Homo sapiens: one gene and its partners. The protein of the gene in region 1 interacts with the protein of each later gene in a pairwise test. Each region holds a gene or a part of one and is shown in the gene's direction. Other genes may lie near its edges. The genes, in order: KMT5A, H4C9 and H4C5.

Evidence for each region.
Region 2: the proteins of KMT5A (region 1) and H4C9 interact in binary tests that used the Homo sapiens proteins (3 or more experiments, as listed by UniProt).
Region 3: the proteins of KMT5A (region 1) and H4C5 interact in binary tests that used the Homo sapiens proteins (3 or more experiments, as listed by UniProt).

What each region holds. Positions count from the first base shown.
Region 1 is NC_000012.12:123,404,595-123,408,254, forward strand, and holds part of KMT5A (N-lysine methyltransferase KMT5A), read left to right. Parts: intron 1-44; exon of another isoform or gene 45-157; intron 158-289; coding exon 290-480; intron 481-2,898; coding exon 2,899-3,109; 3' UTR 3,110-3,660. UniProt on the Homo sapiens protein: Protein-lysine N-methyltransferase that monomethylates both histones and non-histone proteins. Specifically monomethylates 'Lys-20' of histone H4 (H4K20me1).
Region 2 is NC_000006.12:27,137,949-27,140,275, forward strand, and holds H4C9 (histone H4), read left to right. Parts: upstream 1-1,333; 5' UTR 1,334-1,360; coding exon 1,361-1,672; 3' UTR 1,673-1,730; downstream 1,731-2,327. UniProt on the Homo sapiens protein: Core component of nucleosome. Nucleosomes wrap and compact DNA into chromatin, limiting DNA accessibility to the cellular machineries which require DNA as a template.
Region 3 is NC_000006.12:26,203,237-26,205,681, forward strand, and holds H4C5 (histone H4), read left to right. Parts: upstream 1-1,373; 5' UTR 1,374-1,408; coding exon 1,409-1,720; 3' UTR 1,721-1,785; downstream 1,786-2,445. UniProt on the Homo sapiens protein: Core component of nucleosome. Nucleosomes wrap and compact DNA into chromatin, limiting DNA accessibility to the cellular machineries which require DNA as a template.

The sequences.
Region 1 (3,660 bases):
CACCTAGCAGATCTCTCACGAGCTCTGATGTAACTGCTTTGCAGATGAGCACCAAGGAACCACGTTTGTGGAGTGAGGGAACGTTCTAGAGCTGGCCTGTAGTGACGGTTGCACAGCTGTATACACTTCATAAAACCCATCAGCCTGTACATGTAAAGTGAGTGAATTTTATGACATGGCTCAGTACAGCTGTTAAAGACTGGGGTAAGCCCCAGCTCCCCGGAGACCTGCTGTGCACAGTGGCATCCATTGCTATTATGAACCAACACCCTCTCTTATCACCTGACAGATTGACCTCATCGATGGCAAAGGCAGGGGTGTGATTGCCACCAAGCAGTTCTCCCGGGGTGACTTTGTGGTGGAATACCACGGGGACCTCATCGAGATCACCGACGCCAAGAAACGGGAGGCTCTGTACGCACAGGACCCTTCCACGGGCTGCTACATGTACTATTTTCAGTATCTGAGCAAAACCTACTGGTGAGTCCACTGTTGCTTAGAGTGGCTTTTCTGTCCTCTGGGCAGTGAGGAGAGGCCAAAGGGCCAGGAACTCCTGATTCTGTTTGGTGGCCAGTCTTTTGGTTTTGTTGTTGTTGACTTTTTTTTTTTTATTTTTTGAGATGGAGTCTTGCTCTGTTGCCCAGGCTGGAGTGCAGTGGTGTGATCTCGGCTCATTGCAACCTCCTCTCAGGCTCAAAGAATTCTCCTCCCTCAGCCTCCAGAGTAGCCCAGCTAATTTTTTTTTTCTGTATTTTTAGTAGAGGTGGAGTTTTGCCACATTGGCCAAGCTGGTCTTGAACTCCTGACCTCAGACGATCCACCCGCCTTGGCCTTCCAAAGTGCTAGGATTACAGGTGTGAGCCACTGCGCTCGGGCTGTTGTTGCCTTTTTTCAAAGCTGTGATGCAATTATCGCCTGCTTCCTTTTTTTTTTTTTTTTTTTTTTTTTTGAATCTCGATCTGTCGCCCAAGCTGGAGTGCAGTGGCACAATCTTGGCTCACTGCAACCTCCACCTCCCGGGTTCAAGGTATTCTGTCTCAGCCTCCCACGTAACTGGGATTACAGGTGTGCGTCACCACGCCCAGCTAATTCTTATATATTTTTTTAGTAGAGACAGGGTTTCATTATGTTGGCCAGGCTGGTCTGACCTCATATGGTCTGCCTGCCTTAGCCTCCCAAAGTTCTGGGATTACAGATGTGAGCCACTGCGCCTGGCCCCAGCTTCCCTTTTTTTTTTTCTTTTGAGACGGAGTCTCGTTCTGTCACCCAGGCTGGAGTGCAGTGGTGCAATCTTGGCTTACTGCAACCTCCACCTCCCAGGTTCAAGCGATTCTCCTGCCTCAGCCTCCTGAGTAGCTGGGACTACACACACATGCCACCATGCCTGGCTAATTTTTTGTATTTTTAGTAGAGATGGAGTTTCACTGTGTTAGCCAGGATGGTCTCAATCTCCTAACCTTGTGACCTGCCCACCTTGGCCTCCCAAAGTGCTGGGATTACAGGCATGAGCCACTGTGGCCCCAGCTTCCCATTTTTAATCTTTGGAATTGGAGCTGTCCTGGATGTTATCTCATCCAAGGGGAGAAGTGGGCTAGTCACATGAAAACCTGTTAAGCAGCTCACCTGGCTCTCCTTCAGGGCATTTGGCCAGAGCAGCTCTGGAAATCACTAATTGATCTTGCCTGGCTAGGACCAGTGGAGTTGAATTTTTTATTTTTTATTTTATTTTATTTTTTTGAGATGGAGTTTCACTCTTGTTGTCCAGGCAGGAGTGCAGTGGCACGATCTTGGCTCACTGCAACTTCCACTTCCGAAGTTTAAGCAATTCTCCTGCCTCAGCCTCCCAAGTAACTGGGATTACAGGCATGCGCCACCACGCCCAGCTAATTTTGTATTTTTAGCACAGACAGCGTTTCACCATGGTGGCCAGGCTGGTTTTGAAATCCTGACCTCAGGTAATCCACCCGCCTCAGCCTCCGAAAGTGCTGGGATTACAGGCGTGAGCCACCGCGCCTGGCGGGGTTGATTTTTTTAATCCATTTATTTTGTGAAACTCTACCATTTCCTCCTGTGCCTCCATAAAGAGCCCTTTGGGTCCTACCCCATCCCCCCACCCAGGGCCTGTGCAGGCTCTCAAAAATAGCTTTGTGGGCCAGGCGTGGTAGCTCATGCCTGTGATCCCAGCACTTTGGGTGGCCGAGGTGGATGGATCATGAAGGTCAGGAGCTCCAGACCAACATGGCAAAACCCCATCTCTACTAAAAATACAAAAAAATTAGCCTGGCATGGTGGCACACGCTTCTAATCCCAGTGACTCAGGAGGCTGAGGCAGAATTGCCTTACCCCGGGAGGCAGAGGTTGCAGTGAGCTGAGATCGTGCCACTGCACTCCAGCCTGGGCGACAGAGCGACGAGACTCCCTCTCAAAAAAAAAAAAAAAAAAAAAAAAGCTTTGCAAATTGAGCCAGACCTGGTGGCTCGTGCTTGTAATCTCAAAAACTCAGGAGGCCAAGGCCAGAGGATCACTTGAGCCCAGGGGTTGGAGACCAGCCTGAGCAATATAGGGAGATCTTGTCTCTACAGAAACAATTAAAAATTAGCCTGATGTGGTGGCATGTACCTGTGGTCAAAGCTACTCGGGAGGCTGAGGTAGGAGGATGACTTGAGCCCGGGAGGTGGAGGCTGCAGTGAGCCGTGATCGTGCCACTGCACTCCAGCCTGGGTTACGGAGCGAGACCCCCTCTAAAAAGGAAAAAGAAAATAGCTTTATGAATTGAATCTTTTCAAAACACATGGCTTTAAATCAGCATCCCACCAGAGCTGAGCACAAGTGTGACTCTCTTCAGGTTGAAAAGCCTCTTTATCCATTTAATCCTCTCTGGCCCTCCTTCCCCTCCAGCGTGGATGCAACTAGAGAGACAAATCGCCTAGGAAGACTGATCAATCACAGCAAATGTGGGAACTGCCAAACCAAACTGCACGACATCGACGGCGTACCTCACCTCATCCTCATCGCCTCCCGAGACATCGCGGCTGGGGAGGAGCTCCTGTATGACTATGGGGACCGCAGCAAGGCTTCCATTGAAGCCCACCCGTGGCTGAAGCATTAACCGGTGGGCCCCGTGCCCTCCCCGCCCCACTTTCCCTTCTTCAAAGGACAAAGTGCCCTCAAAGGGAATTGAATTTTTTTTTTACACACTTAATCTTAGCGGATTACTTCAGATGTTTTTAAAAAGTATATTAAGATGCCTTTTCACTGTAGTATTTAAATATCTGTTACAGGTTTCCAAGGTGGACTTGAACAGATGGCCTTATATTACCAAAACTTTTATATTCTAGTTGTTTTTGTACTTTTTTTGCATACAAGCCGAACGTTTGTGCTTCCCGTGCATGCAGTCAAAGACTCAGCACAGGTTTTAGAGGAAATAGTCAAACATGAACTAGGAAGCCAGGTGAGTCTCCTTTCTCCAGTGGAAGAGCCGGGACCTTCCCCCTGCACCCCCGACATCCAGGGACGGGGTGTGAGGAAGACGCTGCCTCCCAATGGCCTGGACGGGATGTTTCCAAGCTCTTGTTCCCCTAACGTCTCAACAGGCGCTCACTGAAGTGTATGAATATTTTTTAAAAAGGTTTTTGCAGTAAGCTAGTCTTCCCCTCTGCT
Region 2 (2,327 bases), on another chromosome or scaffold:
AGCACTGCTGTAAGGTACTCATTAAAATAAAGAGTAGCAAGAAAATCACCAAATGGGCCGGGTGCGGTGGCTCATATATTCAGTATATGATAATAAGTTCCTCAAATCAGTGGGGGAAATAGTTAATGTATTGTGCTGACTAACCAACTGATTAACTTTTTGAAAAGTTATTTCTATATACAAGAAATCAAGTCCTTATTAGTAAAGTTAGATTACTTTAAATGGTTCTACCCAGCATTAGTTAAGGTTGTAGGCATATCAGGAACTGCTACTGGTGCAGGGGCCAAGAGAAAACCTCCCTTTTGGCCTCTGAAAGTTCACTGAAAATCAACTGACAAGATTAATAAGAGAAAAGGCATACAAATTTATTAAGGTACAGGGCTGAGGACCACAGAATATTACCCCAACCCCCCAGTGGGGTACAGAAGCTTATATACTCTTTCTCAGAGGCAAAAGAGGAGATGGGTAATGTAGACAATTCTTTGAGGAACAGTAAATGATTATTAGAGAGAAGGAATGGACCAAGGAGACAGAAATTAACTTGTAAATGATTCTCTTTGGAATCTGAATGAGATCAAGAGGCCAGCTTTAGCTTGTGGAAAAGTCCATCTAGGTATGGTTGCATTCTCGTCTTCTTTTCTGCAGTAGATAATGAGGTAACCGAAGGCAATTGTGCTTCTTTTGATAAGAAGCTTTCTTGGTCATATCAGGAAATTCCAGAGAAAGTCCCTCCCTGTATTTGGGGAAGAGAAACAGGACAAAGTTAGAGGGACCTTGATTCTTAGACTTGTTTCTGAGAACCCTCAATTTTCAAAAACACCCACCATTACCAAGCTCGATATTTGGGGGGATAATTCTCCACCCCAAACACTAGAAATGAAAATAAGTAGAAAAGAACTTAGCAATATACCTGAACGATCTTTAAATTCTATGAGTCTATCTTGTTCTATTGCTAGGAATTTAGCATATGGAGTATATTTCCATTGTATATTAAGGAGAAAAATGCCACAAAATAGCATAGTTCCATACAAATAATGTTAAAGGAAAACATGCATATATGCAGAGATAACATTCTTTTTGCTTTATGTATCTTCTATAATGTTAACATTTTTGTTATGAGGCAGGAATCATGTTAAATGAAAAAAGGAAAAACAGCCTAGGTCTTGAGGATTAAAAAGGACTGAAGGAGAACAAGAGGGAGTAGAGCACAGCAGGCCTGTTTCCCTTTTAGGTCCCCTCCCCCAATGCAGAGGGACTTCCCGCCAAAGCTCTTCCGGTTTTCAGTCTGGTCCGCAGAGGTTACCCATAAAAGAAAGCTGCCATCACAGGCAGCAGACCTTTGTTCTCTGACCACTTGATAATGTCAGGACGCGGCAAAGGAGGTAAGGGCCTGGGGAAAGGGGGTGCCAAGCGCCACCGCAAGGTGCTGCGCGACAACATCCAGGGTATCACCAAGCCAGCCATTCGGCGCCTTGCTCGCCGCGGCGGCGTGAAGCGCATTTCTGGCCTCATCTATGAGGAGACCCGCGGAGTGTTGAAGGTGTTCCTGGAGAACGTGATCCGGGACGCCGTGACCTACACGGAGCACGCCAAGCGCAAGACGGTCACCGCCATGGACGTGGTCTACGCGCTCAAGCGCCAGGGCCGCACCCTCTATGGCTTCGGCGGCTAAATGGCATTTTGAAGCCCAGTCATTCTCTAAAAAGGCCCTTTTTAGGGCCCCTAAGCTTTCAACAAAAGAGTTGAAATGACTGCAAACTGAGTCTCTTAATAGGGCCATTGTCAGTGAGTTCTGTCATCCTATTTTACAAGATTAACTCGACGCCGAAAATGGGCTGATGACTACAGGTGACCTTGGGCCGAGATTTTTCCAAGGCCAGAAGAGCCTCTGCTGGCCAGTAACTTCTGGCGGCTGCCTGGAAATTGCCTGCAGCCGGTTTACCGCTCGGATTAGTTTAGAAAGCCAAGGGGTCTGCGGTCCAAATAGGGGCGGGCTAGATAATTAACTTCCCTCTGGACCTTCAAATACGTCTCAGGAGATAATGAGTTTGATGGGCTCCACTAAATGCTAGAACCTCCAGGAAAACTTCGTGGTGGCTGGTTTAAGAGGACTTGGCGGGCACAGAGCTCTGCATGGGGGGGAGGGGGACAGACCATGCTTTTACTACTGTAGAACAGTAGGGCAGTCTTAAGAGTCTTAGTAATAATATTCCTTTATATGTTTGCCTTTTAAATACTGGAATATATCAAGTATACAAAATGCGCTGGTGACCACACCACTTATTCAAGTGCATCTAAAATCCTTATGTCCCTTTCTCAGTAGCACA
Region 3 (2,445 bases), on another chromosome or scaffold:
AGGTAGGCCAGGCAATTTCTTTACTGCCAGTTTTTACACAAAAAGGCAGAAGGAAAGTTGGATTCATATTTTTTAGGTTTTATGGCTAGCTTTGAGTCTAGCTTTGGTTTATATGTTCCATCTTGGGAAGGAAGCAGTCTAGTTCCTATAGCTAGCTTCGGGGAAGAATGGGAGGGAGAAAGAGGAAGGTAGGAGAAGGAGAAAAAGTTACTACGGAGGCCTTCATTTTGTAGCATTGTTTTCTGAGTCCCAACACCTTTTATTTTAAAAGCCTGTAGGAAGTCGCCTATTTAATAACTTGGCCCATTACACGTTGCCAATTCTCTTGTGATAAAGGCTGCTACCAGCATCAAAGAGAACAGAAAACTAACAATAGAGAAGTAAACATTAACACACCAGTGAGTTTCTAGGTTTAGATGTGCGAGTTGGCTAGATATTTAAATGATAATTATAAATTTTAATAAACAGGGAAGAAAGAAAAATAAGCCAAAAATGTAATACGGGCGTCCACAGCGAGGACCAGAATTCATGGGATCAAAAATTTTTTTTTCTTTTCTTTGAGACGGAGTTCCGCTCTTGTTGCACAGGCTGGAGTGCAATGGTGTGATCCGGGCTCACCGCAACCTCTGCCTCCTGGGTTCAAATGATTCTCCTACCTCAGCCTCCTAAGTAGTTGGGATTACAGGTATGCGCCACCAGGCCCGGCTAATTTTGTATTCTTAGTAGAGATGCGGTTTTTCCGTGTTGGAGACTGGTATTGAACTCCCGACCTCAGGTGATCCGCCCGCCTCAGCCTCCCAAAGTGCTGGGATTACAGGCGTGAGCCACAACGCCCGGCGGGATCACTAATTATCCGTGTTTTTCTCTTCGGGAGGAAAATCCTTTTGGTCAGATTTCCCTTGGCTTGGTGGTGGAGAGGGTGAGATCTTGCAGTTTTCAAACACTTCCTAAGGGGGTTCCGTCCCCAAGAGAGCAAGCAGCAGAAATGCCAGAGGAACCGTGCCTATGGGGACAAAGCTGAACTCCTCATGGAAGGAGATTACTGCAGTTCCGGTCTTGTGAGCCAAAGCTCCTGTTCAATCGTCCTAGAGCATCCCAAGCAGCAAATGATTTTAAACATGTTAATGTATTTAATCTCATTTAGTTGTTAAAATATGCCTAAATTTCCTCTTTGGGAACGCAAGACTTGCAGAGATGACTCCATGGAGAGCGGACTCTGCCGGCGGGAACTGGAGTCGTTGGTGACGTCATCCCAGTCTGATCTGTGAAGGGTAGGGCCAGCAGGCAGCACCAAAGTTCCCGTATGCGCGTTTTCAGTCTTCATTTAGGTCCGAATTCCCGGCATATAAGAATACTACCGTCGCTTGTTTTTCAGATTTTTGCGGCTATTTTCGTTGGTGTGTTGGTCATGTCTGGTCGCGGCAAAGGCGGAAAGGGACTGGGTAAAGGAGGCGCTAAGCGTCACCGTAAGGTCCTGCGAGATAACATCCAGGGCATTACCAAGCCTGCCATCCGGCGCCTTGCTCGTCGCGGGGGTGTCAAGCGCATTTCTGGTCTCATCTACGAGGAGACTCGCGGGGTTCTGAAGGTGTTTCTGGAAAACGTGATTCGTGATGCTGTGACTTACACGGAGCACGCCAAACGCAAGACAGTGACAGCGATGGATGTGGTCTACGCGCTGAAGAGACAGGGACGCACTCTTTACGGCTTCGGCGGCTAATGCTACCGCTTAAACGACTCAGCATCTCGACTTCCCAAATCAAAGGCCCTTTTCAGGGCCGCCCACAGTTTTCCGCAAAAGAGCTCATGACTTGTTAGACGATTGGTTGGTCTCTTTATAAGTTAATTGTTCCTGTCAACAGGTACGTATATTTTTCAGCCGTTTTTTTTTTTTCGTTCCAAATTACATTTGGGGTTTCGGCATACGATTTTTTAGGCTACGATCCTTTTATGTTTATTGTAGTAGGGCCTTAGATTGCACTGAAAAGGCTAGGGTAATAGTGTCTGTTTACCTTACCACTTTTATTTTGAGTACCTAAAAATGCATGGTTTTCGACATAAGTGGGAAAACCGCAAGACACTGCGTAACCGCTCAAAATGGCGGAGAGCGAAGAACAAAGCCGGTGCCTGGCAATGGGCCGGACCCGCGAATTAGCGCAACCAATCATCTTCCTGGAAAGGAGTGTGGGCCTTAAATTCTAGCGGCCTGTTTTCTATTACTTAACCTAACGACCGAGTTTAGGTGTGTAGAAGTTCCTGGGGTAGATAAGCTCACGCAAGGAGAGGTTGCAAGCATTCATTTCGGAATTCTATTAAGCCAACCCAGTTGTCCCTTAGAAGTTATGATATTTGCTGTTTTTTGAATAAAAGAATTTGACTCTCTTTAAACCCTAAAGCTTGAAATTTAGCATTTATCTCACATGAGACAAATGTTTAGGAACTCAT